4 linked regions of the Homo sapiens genome follow. The protein of the gene in region 2 interacts with the protein of the main gene of each other region in a pairwise test. Each region holds a gene or a part of one and is shown on either strand. Other genes may lie near its edges.

Region 1 (7,476 bases), on a different chromosome or scaffold from region 2:
TGGACAAAGTCCCTGTCCCTCCGCCAGTCCCTTCCTCTGTCCTTCAAGGCCCACCTCAGATGTCACGTCCTCTGAGAGGAGCCTCCTGACCTCCAGGCTGGATCGGGGCCCTGTCTGGGCTCCCCCAGTGAACTGAGCCACCTCAACGATGACAGCTGCCCGCATCACCCTGATTTAACACTGCTTGCTTCTCCCACGGGGTTGCCCTCACCCCTCCCCTGCTCACAGCCCACTCTGCTGCCTCATTTCCCCCAGGACAGAGTCCCACAAGGCCCTGCGTGGTCTGGCTCTGGTGGCCTCACCTCAGAGCCTCAGCACCCTCCTTCCTGGTCCCCTGTCCCCAGCCACATCCCCGGTGCCCACCGCCTCCCGCCCCACCCCCGCCAACCTTTCCTCCAGCTCTTCCCCTGCCTAGGAAGGCTCTTCCGCCTGTCACCACTTGTCTCTGGGCCCTGCCTCTGAACAGCTGCACCTCTGTTCCCTATCTGGACCCTGGGCAGGCAGGACATGGGAGGAAAACGCTCGTGTGTGTGTGTGTGTGTGTGTGTGTGTGTGTGTGTGTGTGTTTCCCTCACCACCCTTAGGCTGGCACTTGTGTCTGAGTCATCTCAGGGTCTCCAGCATGGCTTTTGTATGAAAGAGCTGATGGGTCCTTGTTGCGAATGATAGAGGAGATGACTAAATACCATAATAATCAGTCTGAGGGGCTGGGACTCTTAAGATGTCCGAGAGCCGGAGGAGGCTTGGAGCAAGAGGCAGGGGAGGCAGGGCCATCTCCAGGTGTAGAAAGACTCTCTAGGATCAAGTGGGGACTGAAGGCAGGGACAGACTGGAGGCCATGGGCAGGCTGGGCAGGAGAGGGTCAGGCCTGAGCTGGGGCCAGGGACATGGGGACAGAGAGGAGGGAGTGAGAGATGGTAAAGGAGTGATTTTTTTTTTTTTTTTTTTTGAGACAGTCTTGCTCTGTTGCCCGGCTCACTGAAACCTCTGTCTCCCAGCTTCAAGCAATTCTCCCACCTTAGCCTCCAGAGTAGCTGGGACTACAGACATGTGCCACCACGCCCAGCTAATTTTATTTTTTATTTATTTTTATTTTTTAGTAGAGACGGGGTTTCGCCCTGTTGGCCAGGCTGGTCTGGAATTCCTGACCTCAAGTGATCCACCCGCCTCAGCCTCCCAAAGTGTTGGGATTACAGGTGTGAGCCACTGCGCCCGGCCAAAGAGTGATGTTGGACATTGTGAATAGTGAAGAGGAACATTCCATGCTGGCAGAGAAGGAAGCCATGCCGGGCAGAAAGAAGTACCTGGAAGCCCAGAGGCCGCACAGAAGGGCTCACGGGAGTGGAGAGTCTGGTTTGAGGGGGGCCGTGAGGGCTGAAGATGCGGAGGCAGGCTCGGCCTCCGCTATGAGGAGGGCCCTGAGTAGGGCGGGGGCGTGTTTAGGATGGACTGGAGAGCTGTGACAGGGCCCAGATAAGAGATGCCTGAAGCTGGGTGAGCCTGTAATCCCAGCTACTGGGGAGGCTGAGGTGGGAGGATCACTTAAGCTCAGGAGTTCAAGACCAGCCAGACCTTGTCTCTAAAGAAAGAACCACTGGGCCGGGTGCAGTGGCTCACGCCTGTAATCCTAGCACTTTGGGAGGCCGAGGCGGGTGGATCACGAGGTCAGGAGATTGAGACCATCCCGGCTAACATGGTGAAACCCCGTCTCTACTAAAAATACAAAAAATTAGCCGGGCGTGGTGGCGGGTGCCTGTAGTCCCAGCTACTCGGGAGGCTGAGGCAGGAGAATGGCATGAACCCGGGAGGCCGAGCTCGCAGTGAGCGAGATCGCGCAACTGCACTCCAGCCTGGGCAACAGAGTGAGACTCAGTCTCAAAAAAAAAAAAAAAAGAAAGAACCACTGGATTGAGGTCTGGCTGGGGCTGAGGCCACAGGGACAGACAGGCACAGGAGGCAACATCTCCCCAGAGTCCCAGCGTCTAGCTTAGGCAAGTGAGCGCGGAGCAGAAGAAAGCCCCCAAGGCTCAGCGCCTGCCTGGCGGCGAGACCCAGGTGGGTCACTCCGCCAGAGCTCTGCTGCTCCAGGGGCTGGGGTGGGTGACGGTCACCTCTTGCAGATCTCATCGGCAGCCTCCTGGCTAAAGAGCTGCTGCTGCAGAACGTTGTTGAGGGCGTGGACAGCACACAGCTCCAGGCGCTGCCGTTCGTGGTACACGGTGGGTGGGCTCGGCTGTGCTCCCGGGGCCTGGGACATGCCGTCCTCGGCTCCTGCTGGGGGTTGGGAGGGGGAGAAGGTCCTCAGGGGCCCGGGATCTAGAGGTCCAGCCTCCCAGCAGGCCTTTGGGGCATCGCCATTGATTGAGCTGGGACTCGGAGCAGCCCAGGAAGACACTGGGCCCCTGACCCCGCTCCCTGGCAGTCTCCTGGCAGCACACGTCCCTCCATCCCTTATTCCTATTCCTACGAAAAACGCTGTCTCTTCTGCTCCCCTAGCAACAGAAAACCACCCTCACCAGGTCTCTAAGTAAAAGGGTCCCTATCATGGTCACCTAGCAACAGAGGAACCTGCCTCCCCGTCCCTAGGTAACCAGGGCGCTCTGTGGTTACCTAGCAACAAAGCCCCCTCCCCACCGCACTAGGTAACAAAGTCTGTCCTCCGAGCACCTAGCAATAGAGAATCCTCCTCCCCTGTCTCTAGGTGATAGGGTCCCCTCTGGTCTCCTAGCAACAGAAGACTCCCCTTCCCCGGTCATGTAGCAGCGAGGCTCTCTGCTCTTGTCACCTGGCAACGGGGCCCCCTCCCCAGTCACTAAGCAACAGGAGTTCCTCTTCCTATCACCCAGCAACCAGGCCCCCTCCCCGGACACCAAGGAATGGAGCCCTTCGCCGACCCGCACCCCAGCCACGGCGCTCGCCCTTTGCCTGGCAACGCCCCTCACCCCGCCTGCCTCTCCGCTCCACCGAGCCAGGGGTTTCCGCATCCCCTTCCTGGGCGGCGGCTCTGGGCTCCGAGTGCGGGGCGGGCAACACCGCGCTGACTGGGCAGGCGGGACGGACTACAGCTCCCGGTGATCCCCGCGCGCCGGACTACGACTCCCGTGGGGCCCCGCGGGACTCCTGCTCCACACGGAACGCCCGGGCCGCGTGGCCCTGAAGTCGGCCGTCGGGCCTAGGAAATGCCGCACTACAACTTCCGTCGGGCTCCGCGGCAGGTCCCGGAAGTGCGCCTCAGAGGCCCTTCTTTCGCATACGGCCGCGCCCACTACTGCTCAGAGATTCTAGGAAACTTAGTAGGTAGGCTCTCGCGATAGCTTCCTGGCGCCGCGCTCTCATGGGTGCTCGCCCCCGGCGATGGCGTCATGCGCGGTGCGCAGACGCAGCGTGACGTCACACAAGGGAAAGGGATCAGAGACGCCAGGCGGTGCGGGGGGAGGCAGCGGTGATCTTTACTGAGTCAGAAGGGAGACCCTGGGGAAGTGGGGCAGGGCAGGGGTGGGATGGTGGTGGTGAGAGGCCAGGCAGATGATCTTGTCTCGGGAGGGAGGAGGCTTCTCAGCAGAGATGGATCCCCGGCCTGGAGGGGAGCTGGCAGCAGGCTGCGGGGAGAGGGGAATGAGCGAATGAGACAGAGGAGAGATGAGGAGACAGACGCCTGGGGGAGGCAGTGGTGGGAGGAGGGGACAGGGCAGGGGGGCGGTGGAGGAAGACCCGGAGAGAGCGGGACAGAGCCCTGGGGGTGGACAGAGACAGAGAGAGTCTCGATCAGAGGCGGGCACAAATGGAGACATCTACAGTGCCAGGATTCAAAGTCATGGAGAGAGGTTAAGGAAATAAAGGTCAGAAAGAAAGAAAGGTCAACAAATACAGAACCAGAACTGCAGAACTAGTGAGAGCCCGGGACCCCCAAGCTCTGCAGAACACAGGAGCCCAGGGCCGGGGGAGAGGGGCCTGGCCGCACCCAGGAGGCTCTGCCAGAAGGCCGTGACGGTGGCGGAGCCGGTGACCGCGCCTGGCTCGGCAGGGTTCTCTCTGCGGGTGTGCACAGCAAAGCTTCGGCCCGTGGGGCCCCGGGGTCCGCTCAGCTCTACATCCACCACGTGCATGTCCGTGAGGCTGGGACAAGAGGGGCAGTCAGTCTGGAGAGCCTGGACTCAGCCCAACACCCTGCTTAGCTCTGCTCACCTGGTATCAGCCACGAGCACCCCAATCACCCCATCGAAGCCCAGGCTGGGGGCAGCCAGGGCAGCCGCCGCCATGGTGTTGGAATTTCGCGGGGCAAAGGGGCAGAGCCCACGGACAGGGCCTTCGTAGAGCACAGTGCAAGGCCCAGGGCTGTGGGCTGCAGCCAGGGGTCCCTCAAGCCGGAAGCCATCGGGGTGTGTGGCCATGGTGACACGAAGGCTCTGGAAGCAAGAGCCCGGGTTAGGGGGAGTGGGGTCTTTGCAGGCCTCCCCTGGTTCCTGGGGAGCCCAGCAGGCCTCACCCGGAGGCCCCCAGCTGCATCCAATCTCCTGATGTCCTCAGCGCCCCACAGGGCCCCTCGGGCCACAAACACGGCGTGGTCCCAGTGCTGTGAGGCCTCCAAGAGCTGCCGCTCTGTGGTCTGGTCACTTAGAGCTGAGGGGGACCCCACCTGGGGTGGATGAAGGAGGGGAGGGTTGAGGTCAGGGAAGGATATCCACTTCAGGGTGGGGTGAGACCAAGACAGAAGGGGCAGGGCTCTGCGTAAATGGTTGGGGTGGGGCTTACCAGGAGATTGGCATGGCGCAGGATTTGTGCCCCAGATTCATGGATTATTTTGGGATGGGCCACTTCCACAACCAGATCAGGGCGCCTGGGAGAGGGGAAAGAGGGCGGAGGGTCTTGGAGAGGTATTAGGCCTCTTCTCCCCAAGGTTCCCTCCGAGTCTACTGAGGGCTGCCCTTCTTCTCCCTGACCTGGGAGGCGAAATGAGATGAATGGGTTCGTCCTGTTTCACATTTGCTTGAACCAAGGCCCAGAGAGGGTCAGGGAACCCCTGAGATCACACAGTGGCTAAGAGAGCCAGGACAGGAGCTTCAGGGAGCTCCACTCTCCCATGGCAAGGTCACTGACCTTTCCCCAAGGGCAGCAAGGTTCTGGAGCTGCAGGGAAGGGGGCACGCTCCCTGCCATTCGTCCTGGGTCACGATTCCAGACAAAAACAAGTTCTAGGCCAAGTTCTGGTCCCTGAGCCAAGAGGCGGGAGACGAGGGACTGTCCTGGGGAGAGGGAAAGGAGAGGGCTAGAGATCCAGAGAGAGGGGGACAGAGACCCAGAGAGAGAGGAGGTGGGGACAGAGACCCAGAGAGAGAGGAGGTGGGGACAGACTCAGATTGCGGGGTAGGGAGACAGAGATGGGGGCAGGGCAGAGACACAGTGGGGTGGACAGAGGCCCAGAGAGAAGGGAGACAGAGACGGAGAGGACAGAGACCTGGGGTGGGGGTGCAGTGGGCAGACCCAGAGACACAGCCAGGGGCAGATAGAGAGAGAAAAAAGTGTTTGTGGAGGGCAGAGAGTCTTGGGAGCTTTAGGAAGGGGTTTGGGGAAGGAGGCCAAGGATGGTCAGGGACTCACCGAGGCGGCCATAGCCCACCACGCCCACCCTCCACGGGCCCCTGTCGGCCATGGCCCTGAGTGCGGTGTCTGGGGCCTGGCTCCCTGGGCTGCTCGCTGCCCGCTGCACAAGGCCTGGGCAGCCGCTGCTCTTTGGACATCTGACCCTTGAGCCTCTGGGCTCAGTCTTCCCCCTTCCCCGCAGGCCCAGCGTGGGGGCGTGGGCCTGCGGGAGTGGAGGCGGGAGAACCCTTCCCTGTGCTCTGTCCACTTTCCCGGGTCCAGCACAGTGAGCATGGTGACCGGGGGTTCTGGGAACCCTGCGTGCCCCCCTTTCCCCTGCAGCACACCCTCTTTCTCCCTGCTGATGTGGAAAGTTTCCTCTGCAGTCCCCTGCCCCCTCTCTGGCCGGCCAGGTTGTCATGGAAACTGCATCTTGCTTTGGGTTGGGAGAAGAGATGGTGACAGGGACTCTGGGCTCTGTCTGTCCCCTCGTGCTCACCTCTCCTCCTTGTCCTCAGGCGGCTAAGGTCTGAGGGAGGCTTCAGCCTGGCCGTGGCCCTAGCCCTCCCAGAGGCAGCGGGAGCCCTGGTTGTGGCTTCTCCTCAATGTGCCCTTGCCTCAGCGGGTCCAACCTCCCTAGCCCCGCTGCGCAGCACGGGTCCCCTTCCCACAGCCTCCGCCCCTGTCCACAGCCTCCCTCCGCTCTGATCATCCTTCAGTTCACCTTGACTTGCTACCTTTCACTCTGTCCCCCATCGTGCCACCAGCTGCCTCCAGTGTGACGTTCTCGCTCCCACGTCCGTCCCTCCCGTTCCCCAGCTCGCGTCAGCCCAGGAGAAGCCTTCGAGGCCTGGAGAGGCCAAGTGCCCCCAACATGAGCCCCAGCCTCTGTGCCTTGAGGGTGCCTGGCATCGGAAATGGCGCAGGCTGCGGCAGCGCAGGCTCCCTGCCCCCAGCCACCACCTGGTACCCGCTGCAGTGTTTCCATGGCAACCAGGATTGGCGCTGGAAGGAGGCTGGAGAGAAAGAGAGCGTGAACGGGAGCATGGGGTGGGGGGGGCGGGCACTGGGTGGCGAGAGCCCCAAGTTGACGGGAGGAGAGAGGAGACAGACGCGGGCAGACAGAGAGGGGCCAAGACCCCGACGTGGCACCCAAAGGCTGCCGCTGCTGATAAGGGAGGAATTGGCTTCCAGAGCCAGGAGCCCCCGGTGTGGGAGAGATGAGATGCCTGGGTGTAGACAGAGCCAGGAAGGGGGCAGGGGCCAGGCACCTCACGGAAGTGGGGGGCCTCCCGCCATCTCTACCTTCTGACTCCTGCTGGGGCCTGAGTGTCCCCATAGTGCCCATAGCTGCCGTGTACGGGGTACAGCCTGGGCCACTACGAGGGGAGAAGGGGGCTGGGCGCAGGCCTGTGTGTCCTCAGGGCTGTGTCCCCGAAGCCACCTCAGCGTGGGAAAGCACTGGAAGGCCCTGCATGGCTCCGTCCCTCCCTCTGCCTCCCCCAGCAGCGTGAGATGGCAGCCCTGGCCAGCCCCAGCCCTCCAGGGCCTGCAACTCGGGCACCTTGACCCCCCAAGAGACATCACCACCCCCTCCCCCAACCCACCCAACAGCTGCCCACTGTGCCAGCAACCCCCCAGCCAGGCCCGCTCAGGGTTTGCTCCCTGCCCTCCCAGGGCTCTGCTCCTGCCCTTCTGAGTGGCACTGTGGTGCCCCTGCCGCCCCAGGCCCACCCGATCCGGCCCTCCAGCCTCCCACTGAACCGGCCAGAAATACAGCTGCTGTGCCCCAGAGGCCGCAGGCCCAGCCTCCCGCTTGGCCTCCCTCCCCTTCGGCACCCCGTCCTCTGGAGCAGCCTTGAGGGGGTCTGCAGTGGAGAGACACACTCTGGATTGG
Region 2 (7,021 bases):
TCATTCCTCCTCCTGCCCACACCTACCTCCCTTTAAATATTTTAGGTTGCAGAAGCACAGCTGACCAGAAATTTGCTCTTAAAGATAAATCCTAAAGATAGAACTCAGTGCTTTATACTGAGTAATGGCTCAAGAAATTCGCCTTCAGCACAAGCTGTATGGTACACAGCTGATAGAATTTGCTGTTGTGGCTCCAGTTCACTGATGCTATGAACTACGGGCTAGAAACAGAGGGACTTAACAGGGCTTGAGACTAGCATTTCTCTAGACTCAGCATCCTTAGCTCCAAAGGTTCAAAAGAGAAATTGGTAACAACTAACCACTCAAGCAATTCCTCAGCATTAACACCAAAAATTCTCCTTAATTTTTCTTTTCTTTTTTTTTTTTTTTGGACAACAGAAATAAATCCTAGAGGACAAAATTAAACTCAATAGAGTGTAGTCTAGTTAAAAACTCGAAAAATGAGCAAGTCTGGTGGGAGTGGAGGAAGGGCTATACTATAAATCCAAGTGGGCCTCCTGATCTTAACAAGCCATGCTCATTATACACATCTCTGAACTGGACATACCACCTTTACGCAGGAAACAGGGCTTGGAACTTCTAAGGGAAATTAACATGCACCACCCACATCTAACCTACCTGCCGGGTAGGTACCATCCCTGCTTCTCTGAAGAAGTGAAAGAGCACTGATTTCAGCAGCTAAGAAATGGGCTCTTTTAAGGCGATTTAGACATTGCAGATTGTTCCACAGAGAAGGTACCTTAGCATTTCCTGTTAATAAGGTACCTAATTAAGACTAAAGTCCCCAGAAATGGTAAAGAAAGAATCACCTTTCTGGGCTGGGAGAGTAAAATCCTTCTTTAGTGACTAGAGTGAGGAACCCTGAACTTCTATTTCATCTAAAGAGCCATGAAGCAAGTTCCTGTGTGGTCTGCAGAACTTGGATAATGAGATGAAAAAACAAGAATGAAATTATAGGAAAAAAATCAAGAGGAAAGGAGTAAGAAGAAAATAAAAGTTATCTTAAAAAATATTTCTTTAGAGTGTGTGGTTCAGGTGGACTGGTCCTTGGTAGTATGGTCCATTAGTATCTGTAAAGAGAGAGAGTGATTGGTTAACACTTATGTCTTCCATATGAGAATTCCAAAAAACAATCGGAAACAGAGCACCTTCTCCAGGGCCCCTCCCCAGCCTGGGTGGGATCCCTGCAGTCATTCCCCAGGGCACCAGTCTCCCTTATTCTTCCACAGGGTCTCTGACAATGCCATTTCTGGTGTTACCGCCTGTTCCCAGGAATGAGTCAGTGTTTTTTCAACCCTGACTAAACATTACAATAATCTGGGGAGGTTTTACAAAATAATGTTTTGTAAATTTGGTCCCATCGCAGACCAAATATATCAGAATCTCTTAGGGTGAGGCCCAGGCTCCAAAATTTCAAAAAAACCCTAACTCCCTGATATCTCCCACAATTTCTCTATCTACCTTGTTAACTGGAACAGTTTTTTTGTTTGTTTGTTTGTTTTTAAGACAGAGTCTCACTCCATCACCCAGGCTGGAGTGCAGTGGCATGATCCCAGCTCACTGCAACCTCCGCCTCCCAGGTTCAAGTGATTCTCGTGCCTCAGCCACCTGAGTAACTGGGATGACAGGTGCCCGCCACCACACCCGGCTAAGAGATAGGGTTTCGCCATGTTGGCCAGGCTGGTCTTGAACTCCTGACCTCAAGTGATCCATCCGCCTAGGCCTCTCAAAGTGCTGGGATTACAGGCGTGAGCCACCGTGCCTGGCCTGGAACAGATTTCTTGTATTCTTCAAAATCAGGTACAACATTTGATCTTTATGTCAGAAGCAGGCTAGCCTGCTTGGTTTAATACTGGGAAAAAGAGCTTTTCACTTGCTTCTCCCCAGGTTACCTGTAATAATTAGGTTTGAATGGCCCATTTTTGTTGAGTCCCAGATATTTTGCTTGGTCATCTGTCAGCTCTGTAAGGTGGGCATCAAATGATGGCAGATGCAAGCTGGCAACGTATTCATCTAGGAAGAGCAAAGTGGCAGGAGAGCAGACTCCTTTTCAAAATGTCTCTCAAGTTATAACTTCCCATTTTCATTTGAAGCTTTTTTAAGAAAGCAGACAAGGGATGGAATAACTCTGAAAGAATCCACAACTTGAAATATTTGCTTAATTAAAAAAAAAACCTCAAAGCTGCCTTTCTGGGCAGGATGCTTCTCTCAGCACATGTACAGTGCGTTCAGAAAAGCCACTTACCAGGGTAACAAAAGGGAGTGGGCTTTTACCTCTCTATCCTTCTCTGGCAAAGCAGGGGGCTTCCCTGCAGTGGCCCACATGTCACATGCTACTCCTACCTTCCTGCAGCAACCTCCTTAACTAGATTATAGTCAAATTAGCAATCAAAGTGGACACCAGTAAGCTAGAAAGACCCTGTGTCAATAACACTCATTTAGGATAAGATCCATGGATCTTAGGATCATGAATTTCTAAGGTAGTCGGCACAGAATTTTTACTTTTCCATAGATAAGCTTCCCTTTTATAATTATACACTGAAAAAAAAGTCTGAAGTAAGCTATTGGAGGAGAGGAGAGCAAGAAGTATTTTAGCATTAAGAAGTCAGGGATTTGGGCTAGCCAAGGAGATATGGGAGATGGGTACACCGTGCAGAAAGGCAAAGGACTAGAGATGATGTATTATGTCACATGAACACAGCATGGGTTGCTTACAAGAGATTGGATGGTTTGCATATCCTCACAGAAAATGGACAATAAAACCTGTGTTTGTTTCTCTCATTTTGTTCCAAGGCTGTATGTACTCAGCTGCACTGGGAAGTTTACTGAACTTCATAAGGCTACTTAGAGTAAGAACATCTCCCTAAACCATTGTGTTAAGCACTGTTACTCATTAGCTGTGATTCTCACACAATTCTACAATGTATGTAGTATTATTTTCATTTTACCAATCAAGAAACTGAGGATCATAGAGATTAGAACTTGTCCTGAGGTCAAACAACCAGTAAGCACAGGAACAGGAATTGGAACTCTGACTCTAAATCCAATGCCTTTCATGGCAGTCATTTTACCAAACTATGCAGCTGTCTGCATAGATTTCCACTGTTTTTCACTCACCCATTTTCTTAGGAAGCAAGTACACATCCTGCTTGTATCGCCCCTCGGGTGCATTATAGAGTTCTATCAGTGCCAAAGCCTAAGGTGGGAAAAGAAGGCCAGAAAGCACAAAAATATTTCTTAGACAGGCACATAAAAATAAAACCAGGTTAAACAGCATTTGGGTAAGTACTACAGTGATCTACCACAGTCACAGTACCTAGGACTTTGCCTATACTAAAGGGCAGCACACATCCTAAGAGGATTTGTTGTTTTTGTTTAGTTCCTAACGAAAGAACAAATCAAATAAAACTAAGCTGGAACATTATATTCTCAACTAAAACAGCCAATTCAACGAATACTGACTTAGTGACTCTTTTCTATACTTAAGAATACCTGTTTCCACAATTTATTACATCAAAAAAGAATAGGATGATGAGAACATAGTACAGTACACCCTCACTGGAACTGATCTACGCCCAGTTCCACAAATTGCAGTGCAGTGTAAGCAGGCATTTTGCCACATACCTGTGTTGTGGCTGTGATGGACAGAACAAAGGTGGGAACTGTGGAGCAGCTCAAATTGAGTAGACGACCCTGGAAAGGTAAGAGAGAGCCCTGGGATGAGCTCTGTCTCAGATTCCAATGGCATACAAGTCAAGCCAAAGCGGGAGAGGACTTTACACCCCTCTAGACTCAGTTGGAAGAGGAAGAATTACAGTTCCAGATCAGGACTCTAGGCTTTTTCCTATTTTCTGCAAATCCATCTGAGTCTGAAAGGTTAAAGAATCAGCTGTGGTTAGGAAATAGTGTTACTTAGTAAAAAGTAGATTTTTTTAAAGTGGTTTTATTTTGGGGACCAATTTGTGAAATATCTCTCTCTCCAAAGATAAAATTCAGGGAAACATAGGCCTAATATTTGTTTCCCTCCCCTCCCCCCTCATAGATCTAACTACTCTGCTTGTGCTGCTCTGCCAGGGTCCTTCTCTGTGTGTACCTCTGCCAGGAGGACAACTCGTTTGCCATCTGGCCAGATGACATGGTCCACCTGAGAACGTACTCGCTCCCACGTCAGCTCCGGAGTGCGGAGGCTGGTCTGAAAGGAAGAAAGCACAGTTGACTATGGTTATTAATGAAAGGTAGTAGAGAAATGCCTAGCAACAAATGAGAGAAGCCTTACCACATCGATTTCTGTGTTGGAGTGGCCCATATTGCATACGATACAACTGTTTTTCATGCGATCCAAGTGCTCCCGTGTCACTACATTCTTATTTCCTAAAAGAAAAGATGGGTGGTTAAGGAAAGAGATGCCGGGCAACAAAGGTACTGGCTGGCTTTCAGGTAGAACATAGGAGACCAGAGGCTTGCTGGCATTAAAGAACATGTAGACATTCTGAGAGAAGACATGCATAACCGCTCCTTAGGCTATCTGGTCTTCAGATCAAGCAGTATAAAAAGTCACCAGGGAAAAAAGTTTTTTACTCTGGAAAACATGTTAAGGTTCTGATAGCTTATTCTAGTTCTGAGACCTTTATACTGAACAGAGGTCTCACCTCCTTTGTATGAAAGTCACTCAGACTACTTTCAAGATTTAGCCTCTGAATAAACACTTCTCTATGCAAGTTATTTACCTGTGCAAGTTATTACGACATCGACTTGCCGGATGACTTCATTTAGCTTTACCACCCTGAACCCATCCATGCTGGAAGAAAAGAAAGGAACACTATGAGTAAAGCAAGAAGGCAGTGGGAGGGAAGATGGTCATGAAATGAGACAAGATCCCCTTCTAGTTGGATCCAGTGCCACCTCACAGGAATGGTGAGTGATAAGCTCTGCTAAACTATATACACTGGCCTCTTCAGAGTCCCCAAGACTCCCTCTAGGAAGGAAAAATGCCAAGAGGCTCTCAGAGAGCCCTAGGGTTAGAGTGAGAAGAACAGAGCAGTCCTAGCCTTCTCTTCCCCTAGGTGATTTCTGCAAAAATGATTAATATACTCAATTATGAACTCTCAATAACATAAAGCACCTAGAGTGAATCTAATAGTATTATCACTCTGTTCTTACCAGGCCTGCAGAGCACAGATGGGGTCGATTTCGGTAATGTAGACAATTGCTCCAAGAGCTTTGAGAGCAGCACAGCAGCCCTTGCCTACCTGCAGAACAAAAGAAAGGTCAAGTCGTTAGGTTCATTAAGTCATGGATATTTAGGGTAGGTAGGTTATTTGTGAGACAGGAATTAACCTTCATGAAATAGCCTGTCATCTGGTGAGCAGCTGCACAGACGCTCCAATCCCAAGCAGAACAGAAACAGACCCAGATTACGTTGTGAACCTCAGTTAGAGAGGTAATTTAGCAGACATGTCATAGGAAGGACTGGGGCTTTGCATAGCAGTTTTCATCAGGGAAACAAGACTAAGCAAAAGCAACTTACTCTAAGCAACCTCTAATTTCCTATTCTCTTACTTGAGAAGAATCTACTCAAGGATACCCTCGTAGCTCAGGAACTTCTTTGGGTCATTGCTGAAGACAACAAAATATGTGACCTATTCCAGTTTGGAGATATTCAACTATATGCCATTTCAGATTCCACCCTTAATTCTACTGCAAGTCACTTGTGGGGCTAAAATGCTATATATTCACTTGAATTAAGTCTCATTAAAGGTTATTGTTATAATTGGGGAAGATGATACTAGTATCTATTCCACAAGGCAAAATGGTAAAATCTGAAAACTCAATTCATTTTGTATGTTTCTATTCATAAATCTGAATAAAAGGCTTTTGCTATTGTTTGAGATACATTATCTAAAAAAATTTAAACCTTGTATCAGTGACTCTAGATTGACAGCACAAGCCTCCTTTACCCAATATTTCTAATAAGTACACAAAAAGAAAGAGACACTGAGACCCAGCTATTTACCTCACCATAGCCACACACCACCACTTGTTTCCCACCAAACATCACATCTGTGGTCCTCTTCAGGCTGTGGAAACAGACAAGGGCTCAACTCAAACGTTAATAGCTCAAACTCAGTCCCTCTTCACAAAGTTAAAAGTGTGGGCCAATGCCCATGAGAATATCAATTGGAAGCTGGTTGAGCTCAGTATGAAATGGTCCCTCTAATAAACTTTTAAAGCCAAAGGAAGACCAGAGCCCCTAGAAGTTTGAATATATATACATTCAACCTACCCATCCAAAATGGATTCTCGGCAGCAGTACAAGTTATCAAACTTCTGTTTGGTAACAGAATCATTGACGTTCATGGCCGGAACACAGAGCTTCCCAGCTTTGGAGAGCTGATACAGCCTAAAGAGAGAAGAGGTCACAAAAACAAACAAAAACCAAGTTAGCTGGCACAACATAATTTGTGGCAAAATCTGCCTAATTCTCTTCAAGTTCCATGCTGCCCTTCCCAGTCTCATTTATTGCCCAAGGATATTAGAAAACATGATTATTTCCTTGTCATCCCTCCACACTTCTTTTCATTTTCTTCTCCCTTTACCCCTTTTTTGGAAGAAAAAAAAAAGCCTTTCAATTGAAGAAATGTACTTCTCTTCCCTTTATAGGGAGTGTTATTTCCTTTGATCAGCATTTTTCAATAGAAACCCATGCCTACTTCTGATAAACAAAGACTATCAATGATTCTGATATGGTTCCGTGTGTGTGTGAGTAAGCATGCGCAATGTGCCCCCAAGAAACACTCTTTCAGATATCTTTTCAGTATTCCAACAAGCCAAGAATATTTTGCCCAGTTTTACTTTTTGTAGTGTGTATAACATGTAGTTTTACAATAGGATTGTTTTTCATATTTCAAATATAAAATGATAATACAATATTGAATACAGTTTTTCAAGATACATTTATTCCCTACCCGCCCCTCAACACTAGTTGAGAATCACTCAATGG
Region 3 (6,981 bases), on a different chromosome or scaffold from region 2:
CAAATAATTTACAGAGTCACCAATTATTAACATTTTGCCGTATTTACTTTATCTCTCTCTTGTCTACAAATATATATCTCTTTCTTTTTCTTGAGACGGAGTCTCACTATATGGTCCAGGCTGGAGTGCAGTGGCACGATCTCGGCTCACTACAACCTCCACCTCCCAGGTTCAAGCGATTCTCTCCTGCCTCAGTCTCCCGAGTAGCTGGGATTACAGGTGCCTGCCACCACGCCCAGCTGATTTTTGTATTTTTAGTAGAGACGGGGTTTCACCATGTTGGTCAGGCTAATCTCAAACTCCTGACCTCAAGTGATCCACCCCCCTCAGCCTCCCAAAGTGCTGAGATTACAGGCGTGAGCCACCATGCCCGGCCTTACATATATATCTGTATTTTTTTTTTTTTTAGATGAAGTCTTGCTCTGTCGCCAGGCTGTAGTGCAGTAGCACCATCTCGGCTCATTGTAACCTCTGCCTCCCGGATTCAAGTGATCCTCCTGACTCAATCTCCCGAGTAGCTGTGACTACAGGCATGAGTCACCACGTCCAGCTAATTTTTGTATTTTTGGTGGAGACAGAGTTTCACCATGTTGGCCAGGATGGTCTCCATCTCTTGACCTTGTGATCCGCCCACCTCGGTGTCCCAAAGTGCTGGGATTACAGGTGTGAGCCACCACGCCCGGCCTATATCTGTATTCTTTTCTGAACCATTTGAAAGTAAATTGCCTCTCTTAACCCTAAATACTACAGGGTACTTTTTCTAAGGGCACTGTCTTACAAAACCACAGTGAAAGTATCAAAATCAGGAAATTTTCAGATATCAAGGGTGGGAGGATATTACAATTTTTTTAAAAATCAGGAAATTTGGCCAGGTGCGGTGGCTCACGCCTGTAATCCCAGCACATTGGGAGGCTAAGGCGGGTGGATTGCCTGAGGTCAGGAGTTCTAGACCAGTCTGGCCAACATGGTGAAACCTTGTCTCTACTAAAAATACAAAAAAATTAGCCGAGCATGGTGGCATACGCCTGTAATCCCAGCTACTCGGGAGGCAGGGGAATTGCTTGAACCAGGGAGGTGGACGTTGCAGTGAGCCGAGATCTCGCCACTGCACTCCAGCCTGGGCAACAGAGCCACCACGCCCGGATAATTTTTGTATTTTTAGTAGGGACAAGGTTTCAGCATGTTGGCCAGGCTGGTCTTGAACTCCTGACCTCAGGTGATCCAGCCGCCTCGGTCTCCCAAAATGCTGAGATAACAGGCGTAAGCCACCGCACCTGGCCACATATTGCATTTAGTTTTTTTTTTTTTTTTTGAGATGGGGTCTCACTCTCTCGCCCGGGCTGGAGTGCAGTGGCACGATCTCTGCTCACTGCAAGCTCTGTCTCCCAGGTTCATGCCATTCTCCTGCCTCAGCCTCCTGAGTAGCTGGGACTACAGGCACGTGCCACCATGCCCGGCTAAATTTTTGTATTTTTAGTAGAGATGGAGTTTCACCGTGTTAGCCAGGATGGTCTCGATCTCCTAACCTCATGATCCACCTGGCTTGGCCTCCCAAAGTGCTGGGATTACAGGCGTGAGCCACCGCGCCTGGCCTAGTTTTTTTTTTTTTTTTTTTTTTGAGACGGAGTCTTGCTCTGCCGCTCAGGCAGTGAGCCACCTGCCCTGGCCTCCCAAAATGCTAGGATTATAGCCATAAGCAGCTTACAAAACAGTTTTCTTGAACATGCTTATACTCTTCACGTGGATTTGCTAATTGTTACATTTTGCCTCTTTCTCCCCTTGTATCACTTTCTTCGGACCACTTGCAAGTTAGTAGCAGAAATCATGACACTACACATCTAAATAATTGAGCATTTATCTCGTTCCAATAAAGATAAAAGTGATTCTCTCATATAATTGCAACACCATTATCTGACTGAGGAAATTTAACACTGATATACTATAATTTAATATAAAGTTCATATTTAGATTTCACCAGTTGGCCCAATAAGTCTTGTAAAGCTGCTGTTTCTCATTAAATAATTCAAGTAAGGATCATGTATTGCATTTAGTCATTATTTCTCTCTTCCTCCCTTTTTAACTTTATTATTTATTTATTTATTTGAGACAGAGTCTCACTCGGTCACTCAGGCTGGAGTGCAGTGACATGATCTCAGCTCATTGCAACCTCTGCCTCCCCGGTTCAAGCGATTCTCCTGCGTCAGCCTCCCAGGTAGCTGGGATTACAAGTGTGTGGCACTGTGCCTTGGTAACTTTTGTATTTTTAGTAGAGACGGTGTTTCACCATGTTGGCCAGGCTGGTCTTGAACTCCTGACCTCAAGTGATCCACCCACCTCAGCCTCCCAAAGTGCTGGGATTACAGGTGTGAATCACCACACCTGGTCCTCTGCTAATTAATTATTATTTTTTTTTTTTTGTAGAGATGGAGGTCTTGCTATGTTGCCCAGGCTAGTCTCAAACTCCTGGACCTAAGGGATCCTCCTGCCTTGATCTCCCAGCATAATGGGACTACAGGTATGAGCCACTGCACCTGTATTTCTCTCTCTCTCTCTCTCGATAATGTTAGAAATGTTAGTTTATTTTTGAGGGGTGCGGTAGCTCACTCCTGTAATCCCAGCACTTTGAAAGGCCGAGCTGGGCTGGATCACTTGAGGCCAGGGGTTCGAGACCTCAGCCTCCTGAGTACCTGGGATTACAGGTGTGTGCCACCACACCCGGCTAATATTTTATATTTTTGGTAGAGACAGGGTTTCACCATGTTGGCGAGGCTAGTCTCAAACTCCTGACCTCAAATGATCTGCTTGCCACAGCCTCCCAAAGTGCTGGGATTATAGGCATGAGCCACCACACCTGGCCCATTGCATTTAGTTGATGCACATCTTTAGTGTTCTTAAATCTAGGCAATTGCATATCCGCCTCCTTTCTCTGTCCCCCACCCCTTATTCCCCATGTGTATTTCACAACATTGACTTTTTTTGAAGTTTTCAGGCCAGTTGTTTTGAAGTATGTCCCTTCTTTTGGATATGTCTGTTTTCCAATGATTAGATTCAGGGCAAACATGTTTGAATACTACACAGATGACCGCTGAGCCCTTTTCAAGACAAAATATTAGAGGCACATGGTCAGATATCAAAGTTGATTGTTTAGGTAAGCTGGGTTGGAATTTTGGCCTCACATTTTGCTAGTTGGGTAAATTGGTTATTGAGACGGTTTTCTCAGCTGTCAAATTGGGATGTAATAATCTAGCTTCATGAGGTTGTTGAATTAATATATGTAAGGCATTTAGAACAGCGTCTGGCACATTATAAGTATCAATAAATAAACACTGTTACCGTTATTATTATCACTACGATTTTTAGAGGCCTTAACAGGAACATCCAGCACCTTCAACAGTATATGGCTCATAGGAATCATTCCATGAATATTTGTTAGCAGAAGGACAGCTCTATGAGATAGATTGCTATCAATTACTGCCCCATTTTACAGATGAGGAAACTGAGGCCCAGAGAAGCCAAGTAGTGACCTAGGGTCACACAGATTGCCGTTAAGTGGCAAGATACGGGGTGTGTACTCAGGCATATCGGATCTGTAAAGTGAGGGATAAGGAACCTTAATGTATTTTGTAAATCCTCCAGGGCTGTGTGGATGTGAAGAACTGAATTGGAGCGCCACGCAGCGGTTCTCTGGCGTACAGTATCCATCCATACAGTAGGCGCTCAATAAATGTCTGCTGCACGAATGAGAAAATGAGTCAGCTGGGGCGAGATCATCCCCTAGCGTTGGTGTGCAATTGCGTGGGGATCCATTGCTTCCGACGCTACTCCTGCCGGGTCACCACAGGCGCACGTGTTCCGGCAGGGCGCGGCTTCCGGTGACCCAGCTCCGCCCTAAGCCCCATCCCAAGCCCCGCCCCTTGACTGTTCTCGCGTTCGCGGACGGCTGTGGTGTTTTGGCGCATGGGCGGAGCCGTAGTTACGGTCGACTGGGGCGTCGTCCCTAGCCCGGGAGCCGGGTCTCTGGAGTCGCGGCCCGGGGTTCACGATGTCCGACGAGGAAGCGAGGCAGAGCGGAGGCTCCTCGCAGGCCGGCGTCGTGACTGTCAGCGACGTCCAGGAGCTGATGCGGCGCAAGGAGGAGATAGAAGCGCAGATCAAGGCCAACTATGACGTGCTGGAAAGCGTGAGTGTGGGTTCGGGGCGCCCCAAGTCGCCTAACCCGGCCCGGAGTCCCTGGGGTACTGGGATGCCAGGGCGGCCTCAGTTTGGGCGCTCCGCAACGGATCTCCCTGGGAGGCCCAAGGCGCCGCAAGTGCGGCCTCTGTCGGCACAAGAAGGCAGGCAAAGAACTTTAGCAACTGAAGAGTTAGCCATATTGATATCCAGCAAGAGTTTGTGGAGCCCTGCTGTGTGCTAGGCGCTGGTTTAAGTGCTGTGCATTGTTGAGTTAATTTAATCTTTGCAACAACCCTTTGAGGTGGATGCTGTTACTCTTTCCATTTTAGGGAGGGGGAAACAGGTGTTACTTGGTGATTAAACAGCTGTCATGTGCCTCGCTGACTGCCTTATCTTAATTTTGTACTTTTTGTAAAGACAGAGTCTCACTGTGTTGCCCAGGTTGGTATCGAACTCATGGCCTCAAGCGATCCTTCCACCTCGGCCTTTCAAAGTGCTGGGATTACAGGCGTGAGCTACTGCACCCGGCATTTGCTGATTGTATCGTGAATTCTTAAACTTCAGTGTGTATATGAATTACCTGGGGATCTTATTAAAATGCAGATTTTGTTTGAGGCAAGGGAGCAGATTCTGCATTTGTAGCAAACTCCCAGCAATGCTGATGCTAGTGGTCTAAGGACCGAACTTTGAGTTACAAATAAGGCTCATCATCCTTATTGCATAAGGAGGAAACTGAGGCCCAGAGTGGGGCAAACGCCTATCTAAGGTCATGTAGTTCGGAAGTGGCAGTGGTGGGTCTGGCTCAAAAGCTGATGCAGGTTTTCTTATGCCATCTAGTGTAAAATCACAGATCAGTTTGCAGAGGAAGATGCAATTAATTATGCCCAAGTAGGGTGGGATGGAATGCATTTTAGGTGATGTAAGATGAAGTTTCTTTTTTTTTTGTCTGAGACGGAGTCTTGCTTTGTCACCCAGGCTGGAGTGCAGTGGCTCAATCTCGGCTCACTGCAGCCTCTGCCTCCTGGGTTCAAGTGATTCTCCTGCCTCAGCCTCCCGAGTAGTAGGGATTACAGGCGAGCGCCAGTACGCCAGGCTAATTTTTTATTTTAAGTAAAAGCAGGGTTTCACCATGTTGGTCAGGCCGGTGTTGGATTCCTGACCTCAGGTGATCCGCCCACCTTGGCCTCCCCAAGTGCTGGGATTACAGGCGTGAGCCACCGCGTCCGGCCATAAGATGAAGTTTCATACGGAGGGCCAGAGAACCATTTTACTGGGTGCTGACTATATGCTCAAAGTGGGATTCAGACTTCAGGTCTGTTACATTCAGAACCTGTGCTTTCAAGCAAATTACCAGCAATTTCTCAAACTTTAGTTTACTTTCTACCACATGCAGTATACTATATGCATATACCACTTGTGTTATTCCTTTGATATTTTTATTTAAATAGATCTACTTTTAATCTTATATAAATGTATTATTATTGTTATTATTATTATTGAGACAGGGTCTCGCTCTGTTGCCCAGGCTGGAGTTCAGTGGCACCATCTTGGTTCACTGCAGCCTCAATCTCCTGGTGTCAAGCAATCCTCCCACCTCAGCCTCCCAAGTAGCTGAGACTGCAGGTACGTGCCACCACGCCCAGCTAATTTTTGTATTTTTTGTAGCTATGGGGTCTCACTATGTTGCTTGCTCAGACTGGTCTGAAACTCCTGGGCTCAAGCAGTCCTCCTGCCTCTGCCTCCCAAAGTGTTGGGGTTACAGGCATGAGCCACAGTGCCTTGCCCATAAATGTATTTTAAAAGGAAATTTCAAAACTCCGCTGCATATGGAAAATGATAATCTCTTCTCTTAAATATAAGGTCAGATGCTTTGCATGTTGATACGGCATGTTGGTTGCTTCTGGCTAGCTGCTGTTGCTTGCTGAAAGCTTTCAGCCTGAAACCGTGCTCTATATTTGTTTTTAAAAAGTGGGTTTGGGCCGGGCCTGGTGGCTCACGCCTGTAATCCCAGCACTTTGGGAGGCCAAGGTGGGTGGATCACCTGAGGCCAGGATGGTCTCGATCTCCTGACCTCGTGATCCGCCCGCCTCGGCCTCCCAAAGTGCTGGGATTACAGGCTTGAGCCACCGCGCCAGGCCTACAAAAAATTTTTTTAAAAATTAGTTGGGCGTGGTGGTGCATGCCTGTAGTCCTAGCTACTTGGGAGGCTGAGGCAGGAGGATTGCTTGAACCCTGAATGTTGAGGCTGCAGGGAGCTATAATTGCACCACTGCACTCTCTTGTGGGTGACAGAGTGAGATGCTGTCTCTTTAAAAAAAAAAAAAAAAAAAAGGCCGGGTGCGGTGGCTCATGCCTCTAATCCCAGCACTTTGGGAGGCCGAGGCGGGCGGATCACGAGGTCAGGAGATCGAGACCATCCTGGCTAACACAGTGAAACCCCGTCTCTACTAAAAATACAAAAAATTAGCTGGACGTGGTGGCCAGCGCCTGTAGTCCCAGCTACTCTGGAGGCTGAGGCAGGAGAATGGCCTGAACCCGGGATGTGGAGCTTGCAGTGAGCCAAGATTGCGCCACTGCACTTCAGCCTGGGTGACAGAGCGAGACTCCGTCTCAAGAAAAAAGAAAAAAAAAAAAAAGACTGGGCATGGTGGCTCACGTCTGTAATCCCAGCACTTTGGAAGGCCGAGGTGTGTGGATCGCTTGAGGTCAGGAGTCCGAGACCAGCCTGGCCAACATGGTGAAACCCCGTCTCAACGAAAAATACAAAAATTAGCCAGGTGTGGTGGTACACATCTATAATCCCAGCTA
Region 4 (7,808 bases), on a different chromosome or scaffold from region 2:
CGAAGGTGAAGCTCTTACCAAGTGGAATCATCAACACTAGTCCTGTGTCCTGGGAGAAAAATGAAAGAAAACAATAAAAATAATTTTTTGGGCCAGGTACGGTGGCTCACGCCTGTAATCCCAGCACTTTGGGAGGCCAAGGCAGGTGGATCACGCGAGGTCAGGAGTTTGAGACCAGCCTGGCCAACATGATGAAACCCCATCTCTACTGAAAATACAAAAATTAGCCAGGCGTGGTTGCTCATGCCTGTAGTCCCAGCTACCTAGGAGGCTGAGGCAGGAGAATCGCTTGAACCCAGGAGGTGGAGGTTGCAGCGAGCTGAGATCACGCCACGGTACTCCAGACTGGGCAACAGAGTGAGACTCAGTCTCAAAAAAATAATTTTTTGAAAGTCACAGAAGGCAGGTAAAATGGCTCACACTTGCTTCTGACCTTCATTCCTAGAACCTCTCTGCCAATATTTCAGAAAAAAAATGACAGAAAATAATAAAAGTAATTTTTTTGAAAGTCAGAGAAGGCAGCCACAATGGCTCACACCTGTAACCTCAGTACTTTGGGAGGCCAAGGCGGAGGACTGCTTCATCCCAGGAGTTCGAGACCAGCATCTCTTTTTCATAAAATAAAATTTAAAAAAAGAAAGTCACAGAGCCAGTTGAAATTTCAACAAAGGAAGTTATCTAAATTCACATCTCTCATGTATTTTATCAAAAATAACTGTCCATAAATTTATTATATTATTTTAGGATTACTTCATATATTAAAAATTTCTTAAAAACACTAAAGATGAAATAAGTAGTATAAAGAAAGCTTTCCCTTTCTTTCCTTTAGAAAACAAAAATAAAATCTAAAAACTACTAAAGATAAAAGCAACAGGGTGGAGTGGAGAGGAAGAATCAACACAGAAAATTAAAAAAACAATAAAACATAAAGTTAATAAAAATATGAACCAAAGATTAATATGACTTTCCAAGATGTTCATTGGCAAAGTGTTCTGTGTGAACTAAATCTTAAAATAAGAATTTGCTAACTATATATCTGGAAATACTGAATAGAAATAAAAACATTATTTGTACTTGTTACTGCTGCAACTAGTCATTTCTTTAAAAATAATATTTATGGCTCATTCTACTGTATTCTTTTCAATATTTCTATAAGTCATTACCTTTCAGAGGAATAAACCCTAAAATATTACATTGAATCACGTATTGTTTTCTGCTAGAATATTTATTATTCATTTTTAAAGATAGCCTCTATAATCGGTATAAACTTTCCTGTTTAATTATAATCACTTTTTTCATTCAACACCATTATTTCTTCTATTTCTTGATACATATAAAAGTACTGAGCTGTTATACTACAATATTTTTAATCTTGATTATTTGTAGCATATAAACTGAGGGCTATGCGCTGTCTAGCAAGAATATTTCTATTTTTGTGTACAAAAATTAGTCCTATCTAAATACTGGGCCTTAAAATCGATTTTTTAAAAAATACTTGAGAATCTTGAAGGCATTCGTGTATTTTACTGCTATATGTACAAGTCGATCAGAAGTGATACCTGTGCAGACTCTGCCCTGAAAACAATCAGTTCCATTACTTTACTTTTGTAGTTTAGACTTGGGAACTGCTGACAAAACAGCTATGGGCAACACAGACGCAGTTTTGAAAACCCGACTCCCCTGCTGTCTAATACCTGCATCTGAGGGCAACACGGTGAGCGGGACATCTTTGGTTTCAATTTTTACAGAAGGCTCCAGTAGGGACTGCATTTTAGTAGGCACTGGTGTCAGGGGGACCTTGGTCAATCTTATCAGCTCTGAAGGCGGAGCTCCCTGAAACTGGATCCGGGCCCCAGGGGGGACCGTGTGGAGCGTCAAAGGGATCCTAAGGTCTTGCTGGTGCGGCCCAAAGGCACCGGACGTTGGGGCCAAGATGACCTCCGCGCTGCCATGAACCAGGCCATTGGACGCGGGCTCCGCGCCGAGCCTGCAGTCCTCGAGGAGTCTCTCGGGTTCCTCCGTTTTGATCACACCTTCTCGGATGGCTGCCGGGCTTTTGCCTGCCCCGCCTTGCATCGAGTCTCTCATGACCTCCTCCGCCTCCAGCTTGCCCTTCTCGTCCCCTCGGAAGTAGCCGAGGGCCGGCCCGGGGCCTTCCAACTTGACCACCCTGGAGGCTCTAGGACCGGTTTCGACGGCCCCTCGAGGCCCCACTGACTGATCCAGGCTGGGCCCCAGCTTCTGCTTCTTGGCCTTGACATGCAGCGCCAGGGGCTGCACCGGGTGCAACTCGGGCCTGGAGGTGGCGCCGTCTGACGCTGTCGGCGGCTGCAGGAGCCGCAGGTCGGGCCTGAACTGCAACAGCCGCGCCTGCGCGGACGAGGCAGCGGCTTCCTCGTTCTGGGCCTGAGGCTGTGGTAGCAGCAACACCTGCTCTGGCTTCACCTGCAGCAGCCGCCGCACCGCGGGCTGTAAGCCGGACGCCACTGCCTCCCCGCACGACGAGGCCAAGGTCGCACTGGCTGCCGCGCTCAGTGTGGGAGACGACGGAGGGGGCTCCATGGCTGCTGCCCAAAAGGAGGTGCCCTCGACCGGCAGCGGGGGCGGAGCGGGACGCAACGGGCGCGGCTGAGGCGGCGGCTCGGGTCTGGCTCTCTCCATGGGGGAGGGGGACGCCCCGGCCAGGATTGTGAGCTCAGCCGTTTGTTGGCGACCTTCCCCCTCCCCCTTTCGGTTAAGAGCCTTGCAAGGCCTTTGCTACCCAGAACCCTACGCGGTTCAAAACGCAGCTGTCTGTCTGGGCCTCACCCAATCACAACGACCGATACCCGTGGACGGCCAATCACAGGCGGGTTTTCCGGCTCTTCCTGGTCCCTACTCTCGCCTCGTGCTGAGTCCTCGAATCACCTGCCATGGTAGGAGCCGCCGCACTTGTTGCACATTTTCGTTCTGACTCTCTTGTGGAGTTCTCTTACAGCCGTTGTCTTTAGTCATCCCTCCCCCACCCGGAGCTGCGACAATGGCGTTGCCCAGGAAACGTTGCGCTTCCAGGCCGCTGACATCCAGGGAATGAAGTCTTGCGTCACAAGGGGAGCGACGGCCTTGTGCACGCGCTCTGTGCGGCCTGAGTAATCTGTCGGCCCTGAGTACCACCAGGGCTTTTGAATCTTTGCCAAGGGAGAATGGGGAAGATTTTGCAACTTATCAATAACCTATTAGCTAATGTTGCTGGGGAGGATCTTCGACTTTGTGTGATTATTGTGCTAAAGTTTCAATTAATCACCAGGCCCTGTGGCCCTACTTCCAAAATACTATACATCCCAAATTCATCCACTGTTTTGTGTCTCTACCTGCCATTATCCTGTTCCAGGCTCCCAGCATCTTTCACTGGGATACTGCCGTAACCCTGTAAATAGTCTCCCTGCTTGTCACCCTTGCCCCACTACACTCCAGCTGCCAGTGATCTTTCGAAAACGCAAATCTAAGGTTGTCACACTTTTCCTAAACTTTCCATGGCTCCCCACTGATAATGTAATGAAAGTCTAAAATTCTTAGCAAAGCCTTAAAAATCCCCCAGTGGCTTGGGATCTAACCTCCTACTACTGCTACTATTAGATTGGTGCAAAAGTAATTGTGGTTTTTGCCATTAAATAGTTATTGAGTCTTTGGGTTTCAGCCACATTGGCCCCATCATCATTCTCTTTCTACTGCAGGGTGTTTAAACATGCTCAGCATGCTACTCTTTCCTTTGTGTCTCCTTAATTCCTCCTGCACATTTTTCATATTGCAGCTCAACTGGGACTTCTTCAGAGAAGCTTTTACTGACTCTGAAAATCAGATAAAATCTTGGTCTACTTATACCTCTATCACTTGGTTTGCTTACCACAATTTGTAATTAGAATTTTCATGTGATGATTCCACTGCCTCTCCCACTTTAGACTATAAAGTCCTTGAAGGCAGAACAGTTTGTGTTTTGCCCATCACTGAATCCACAATGCAGACCATTGAGCCTGGCATATAGTACTCAATAAATACTTGTTGAATAAATAAATGAATAGCGACTGTGATAGGGTAATAATAAAATAGTAATAATCACTACCTGTGTTAAGGGCTTACTCTTATGCTAGACACTGTTCCAAATCCTTTCCATGTTTATGTTTCTCCTTTTAGTAGGATTGTGTTTATTTCCATTAAACATCACCAAGAAAAACAAAAAGAAATCCTGTATTAACATTTGCTGCATTTCTAAATGACATTCTGGCCAAAAACTATAGTTTATCTTGACGTAGATGATTTTTGCAATCAAGACAAGTTATCACTCAAAGACCACTCCAATTTATTGTCCAATCCTCTGGTAACAAATGTGGTCAGTAGGAGTTCTTATACCTGGCAGATAGACAAGGGCAATGGTTTTCAAACTTTTATCTCAAGAACTCATTATACCCATAAAAACTATTGAAGATCCTGGGCTGGGCGTGGTGGCTCACTCCTGTAATCCCAGCACTTTGGGAGGCTGAGGCAGGCGGATCACTTGAGGTCAGGAGTTCGAGACCAGCCTGGCCAACATGGTGGAACCTCGTCTCTACTAAAAATAAAAAATTAGTTGGGCATGGTGGCACATGCCTGTAATTCCAGCTACTCGGGAGGCTGAGGCAGGAGAATCGCTTGAACCTGGGAGGCAGAGGTTGCAGGAGCCGAGATCGTGCCACTGCACTCCAGCCTGGGCAACAGAGCAAGACCCTGTCTCAAAAAAAAAAAAAAAAACTATTGAAGATCCCAAAAAAGCTTTTGTTCATGTGGATTTCATCTATCAATATTTACCATGTTGTAAATAAAAACAAATTTTAAAGATAGCAACTCATTTAAAACGTCAACAATAAAACCATTCTGTGGTAACACATTTTCATAGGAAAAAATTATATTTTCCCCACCTTATGCTCACAAGAGAATGAAGTGAAAAGAGCAAATATTACATTAGGATTATTATGAAAATAGTTTTAACCTAGCTGACTCTGTAAGTGTCAGTCCCCATACCACACTTTGAGAACCACTGTACTAGGGTTTAAATGGGAGAGGCAACTGTATGCATGAGCAAAAGCTGATAAAAGAGGCAAATAAGTTGTCAGAGGTGTGTGAACCAGAGCACCTCCATCTTGAGTAGGTGCTGGGTAAAATGAGGCTGAAACATACTGGGTCGCATTCCCAGACAGTTAAGGCATTCTAAGTCACAGGATGAGATAGGAGGCTGGCACAAAGTACAGGTCATAAAAACCTTGCTGATAAAACGGGTTGCAATAAAGAAGCTGGCTAAAACCCACAAAAACCAAGATGGTGATGAGAATTACCTCTTGTCATCCTCACTACTACACTCACACTGGCAGCATGACAGCTTACAGATGCCACTGCAATGTCAGGAAGTTATCCTATATGGTCTAAAAAGGGGAGGCATGAAAAATCCACCCCTTGTTTAGCTTATCATCAAGAAATAACCATAAAAATGGGCAACCAGCAGCCCTTGGGGTTGCTCAGTCTATGGAGTAGCCATTATTTTATTCCTTTACTTTCTTAATAAACTCGCTTTCACTTTACTTTATGGACTCGCTCTGAATTCTTCCTTGTGCGAGATCCAAGAACCCTCTTTTGGGGTCTGGATCTGGACCCCTTTCCTGTAACTTCTTTCTGGTGACCCAGGTGGGATTATAGTGTGTAAGCCCCCAGTAAGTGGTGAGGTCCTGTAACATCTTTCTGGCAACTATGGAATGGACTGCAGTATGGAAACCCCGACCCAAAGGCTAACTTTGGGTAAGTGGTGGGGTCCGGTAACATCTTTCTGGTGAACCCTAAAGGGACGATACTTAGGAGACTCCTGACTCAAAGGAAATAGACTATAGCACTGATTGGACAATTTTGGATAAGTGGTGGGGTACCCAGATAAAGAATGGGATTGGGTTAGAAGCCCAACTTAGGAGGGTTAGAGTCCCTTCTAAGATTTAGGGGGCTAGAAGCCCCTCTCGGTAAAGTCCCCTTTGGCTAAGAACAGGTTTGGCACTACGGTATGTTAACTTCTATTCTCCTTGGAATAATCTGCCTTGTACTCTTTGCTGATGGATGCGGATGACAGGGTTAGGCAGGTACAGGATCATGGGACATGAGGAGCTTTTTCCTCCCGTAAAGGGGAAACTTGAGAGTCGATGGGACTGCTGGAAAACATCCCTTCACTACCGAGAAGTGGCCACCTGAACTCTTCACTGTCGCTGCAGTGGGTGGATCTTTCTGTGGCTTCCCTGAACGCCTGGCCTTCCCCACCTTGCCTCAGGCAATGCTGTCGTCTCTCTCTGTGCAAACTGGTTGTAGGAATGGTAAAAATCACTATTTCTTACAAAGTTTTGATTAATGGAAGAAAGGATTTGTGAGGCTAGTCTTAAGCTGTAGCCAATCTGGTGTGTTTCCTGTGTCATTCTGTATTGTTCTGTCATAAAGAGGGGTACCTTAGGATAGAACATGGGCTTAGGACACCTATAAGCCTGCTGTTCAAGATGGCCCAGCAAACTGGTCAGTTAAAAACTTTGCTGCAGGTCCGTGAAAAAAACTGGATGAGGTTTCCCTCTTGTCTTGTATGTCCTTGGGAGCTTGACCTTGTAACCATGTGGCTGTGCTTTCTCTTTCACAGTGGTGGCCCGGGTTCAGGGTTCAATTCCCATCTTAGGAGATGAGTCCTTTATCTTTTGTCTGTGTATTTATGTGTATCATGTGTGTGGTGCTTGTATATAACAGAGGTTTGATTAATCGGTTAAAAATAATAAGTGCTTCAGTCATATTTTTGTGAGAAAAATTAAACATATAATGCCTTTTATATAGTTCATGTGACTTAAGTAATCTTTGGGAAATGAAGACAGTTTTAAAGATTATTGGTAAAATAAAAATATCTTAAAATGTAAACATTTGGTCTAAATTATGCAGGTCAGATATTAGGTTTGCTAAATGCTTTAAGTTCATAAGCTGCTGCTTTCACTTTTGAAAATTGTTTAATTTACCTACTTTGACCATATTAGAGTCTAGATAAGGCCTGGGGACATGTGATGTTAGCCATACCCCAAGCAATGCTAGAAAAAGTCAGACCTTATCTGCACTTCTGTCTGTGTCCTAGGCTGCACACCTAGTACATAATTAAAATGCTTACCAACCAGGGTTTTCACCAAAAGTAAAAATCGCTGAAAGTTAACATTGTAACATGTAATTGAGACTACTGAAGAATAGTTCTACACATAAGGTGTGTAAGGAAAGTGAAATGTGTTTTTGGTAAAAGATCATTAGAAGTCATGAGAATGTAAATTTTCTTCCTTAGATTAAATGGTTAAATTATTGTTTTAAGTTAGATAGAATGAAGCTGAAGGTTTAAGAAAGTTTTGGAAAGTGTGAAAAATTAATTGTAGGACATTCTGTGTGTGAATATATTAGTTAAAGTTAAAGGGGTATTCAGTTTTTCTATAAATTAAACATTGGAATAAAAGCACAAGTTTTTTTAGAGCAAAAACCTGCTATGATTTGCTCTTTAACAAAAATATGTAAAGGGTTATAAAAGGTTTGTGAGAATCTTACCTTATAGTCAAACTGATTAAGATTGAATACATTTGTCTATAAGGTTTTATAAAGAATTGGGTTTGTCATCAATAATGCACTAATGCAAGAGTCACATTTGGCTTATTTGGTACAAAAACCACACAGGAAGCATTATCAAATGTAAAATGGTGTTTGGATTTTTGGGGGCTGTAATTGTATAAATGTATTATTGGTATATATTGAAAATT

What was found.
Region 1: the proteins of AHCYL1 (region 2) and JOSD2 interact in binary tests that used the Homo sapiens proteins (3 or more experiments, as listed by UniProt).
Region 3: the proteins of AHCYL1 (region 2) and PSMD9 interact in binary tests that used the Homo sapiens proteins (3 or more experiments, as listed by UniProt).
Region 4: the proteins of AHCYL1 (region 2) and SOX30 interact in binary tests that used the Homo sapiens proteins (3 or more experiments, as listed by UniProt).

What each region holds. Positions count from the first base shown.
Region 1 is NC_000019.10:50,508,175-50,515,650, forward strand, and holds the start of JOSD2 (josephin-2), read right to left. Parts: upstream 3,018-7,476; 5' UTR 2,943-3,017; exon of another isoform or gene 2,901-2,942; intron 2,275-2,900; 5' UTR 2,258-2,274; coding exon 2,112-2,257; intron 1-2,111. Other genes in the region: ASPDH (aspartate dehydrogenase domain-containing protein), read right to left, coding at 3,556-3,599, 3,962-4,116, 4,186-4,406, 4,487-4,636, 4,753-4,837, 6,317-6,927. UniProt on the Homo sapiens protein: Cleaves 'Lys-63'-linked poly-ubiquitin chains, and with lesser efficiency 'Lys-48'-linked poly-ubiquitin chains (in vitro). May act as a deubiquitinating enzyme.
Region 2 is NC_000001.11:110,015,744-110,022,764, reverse strand, and holds part of AHCYL1 (S-adenosylhomocysteine hydrolase-like protein 1), read right to left. Parts: intron 6,422-7,021; coding exon 6,305-6,421; intron 6,099-6,304; coding exon 6,035-6,098; intron 5,271-6,034; coding exon 5,182-5,270; intron 4,820-5,181; coding exon 4,749-4,819; intron 4,393-4,748; coding exon 4,298-4,392; intron 4,214-4,297; coding exon 4,115-4,213; intron 3,891-4,114; coding exon of another isoform or gene 3,846-3,890; exon of another isoform or gene 3,715-3,845; coding exon 3,646-3,714; intron 3,218-3,645; coding exon 3,139-3,217; intron 2,035-3,138; coding exon 1,914-2,034; intron 1,092-1,913; coding exon 1,085-1,091; coding exon of another isoform or gene 1,039-1,084; 3' UTR 1-1,038. UniProt on the Homo sapiens protein: Multifaceted cellular regulator which coordinates several essential cellular functions including regulation of epithelial HCO3(-) and fluid secretion, mRNA processing and DNA replication.
Region 3 is NC_000012.12:121,884,815-121,891,795, forward strand, and holds the start of PSMD9 (26S proteasome non-ATPase regulatory subunit 9), read left to right. Parts: upstream 1-3,975; 5' UTR 3,976-4,042; coding exon 4,043-4,180; intron 4,181-6,981. UniProt on the Homo sapiens protein: Acts as a chaperone during the assembly of the 26S proteasome, specifically of the base subcomplex of the PA700/19S regulatory complex (RC).
Region 4 is NC_000005.10:157,649,418-157,657,225, forward strand, and holds the start of SOX30 (transcription factor SOX-30), read right to left. Parts: upstream 3,022-7,808; 5' UTR 2,662-3,021; coding exon 1,695-2,661; intron 1-1,694. UniProt on the Homo sapiens protein: Acts both as a transcriptional activator and a repressor. Binds to the DNA sequence 5'-ACAAT-3' and shows a preference for guanine residues surrounding this core motif. Binds to its own promoter and activates its own transcription.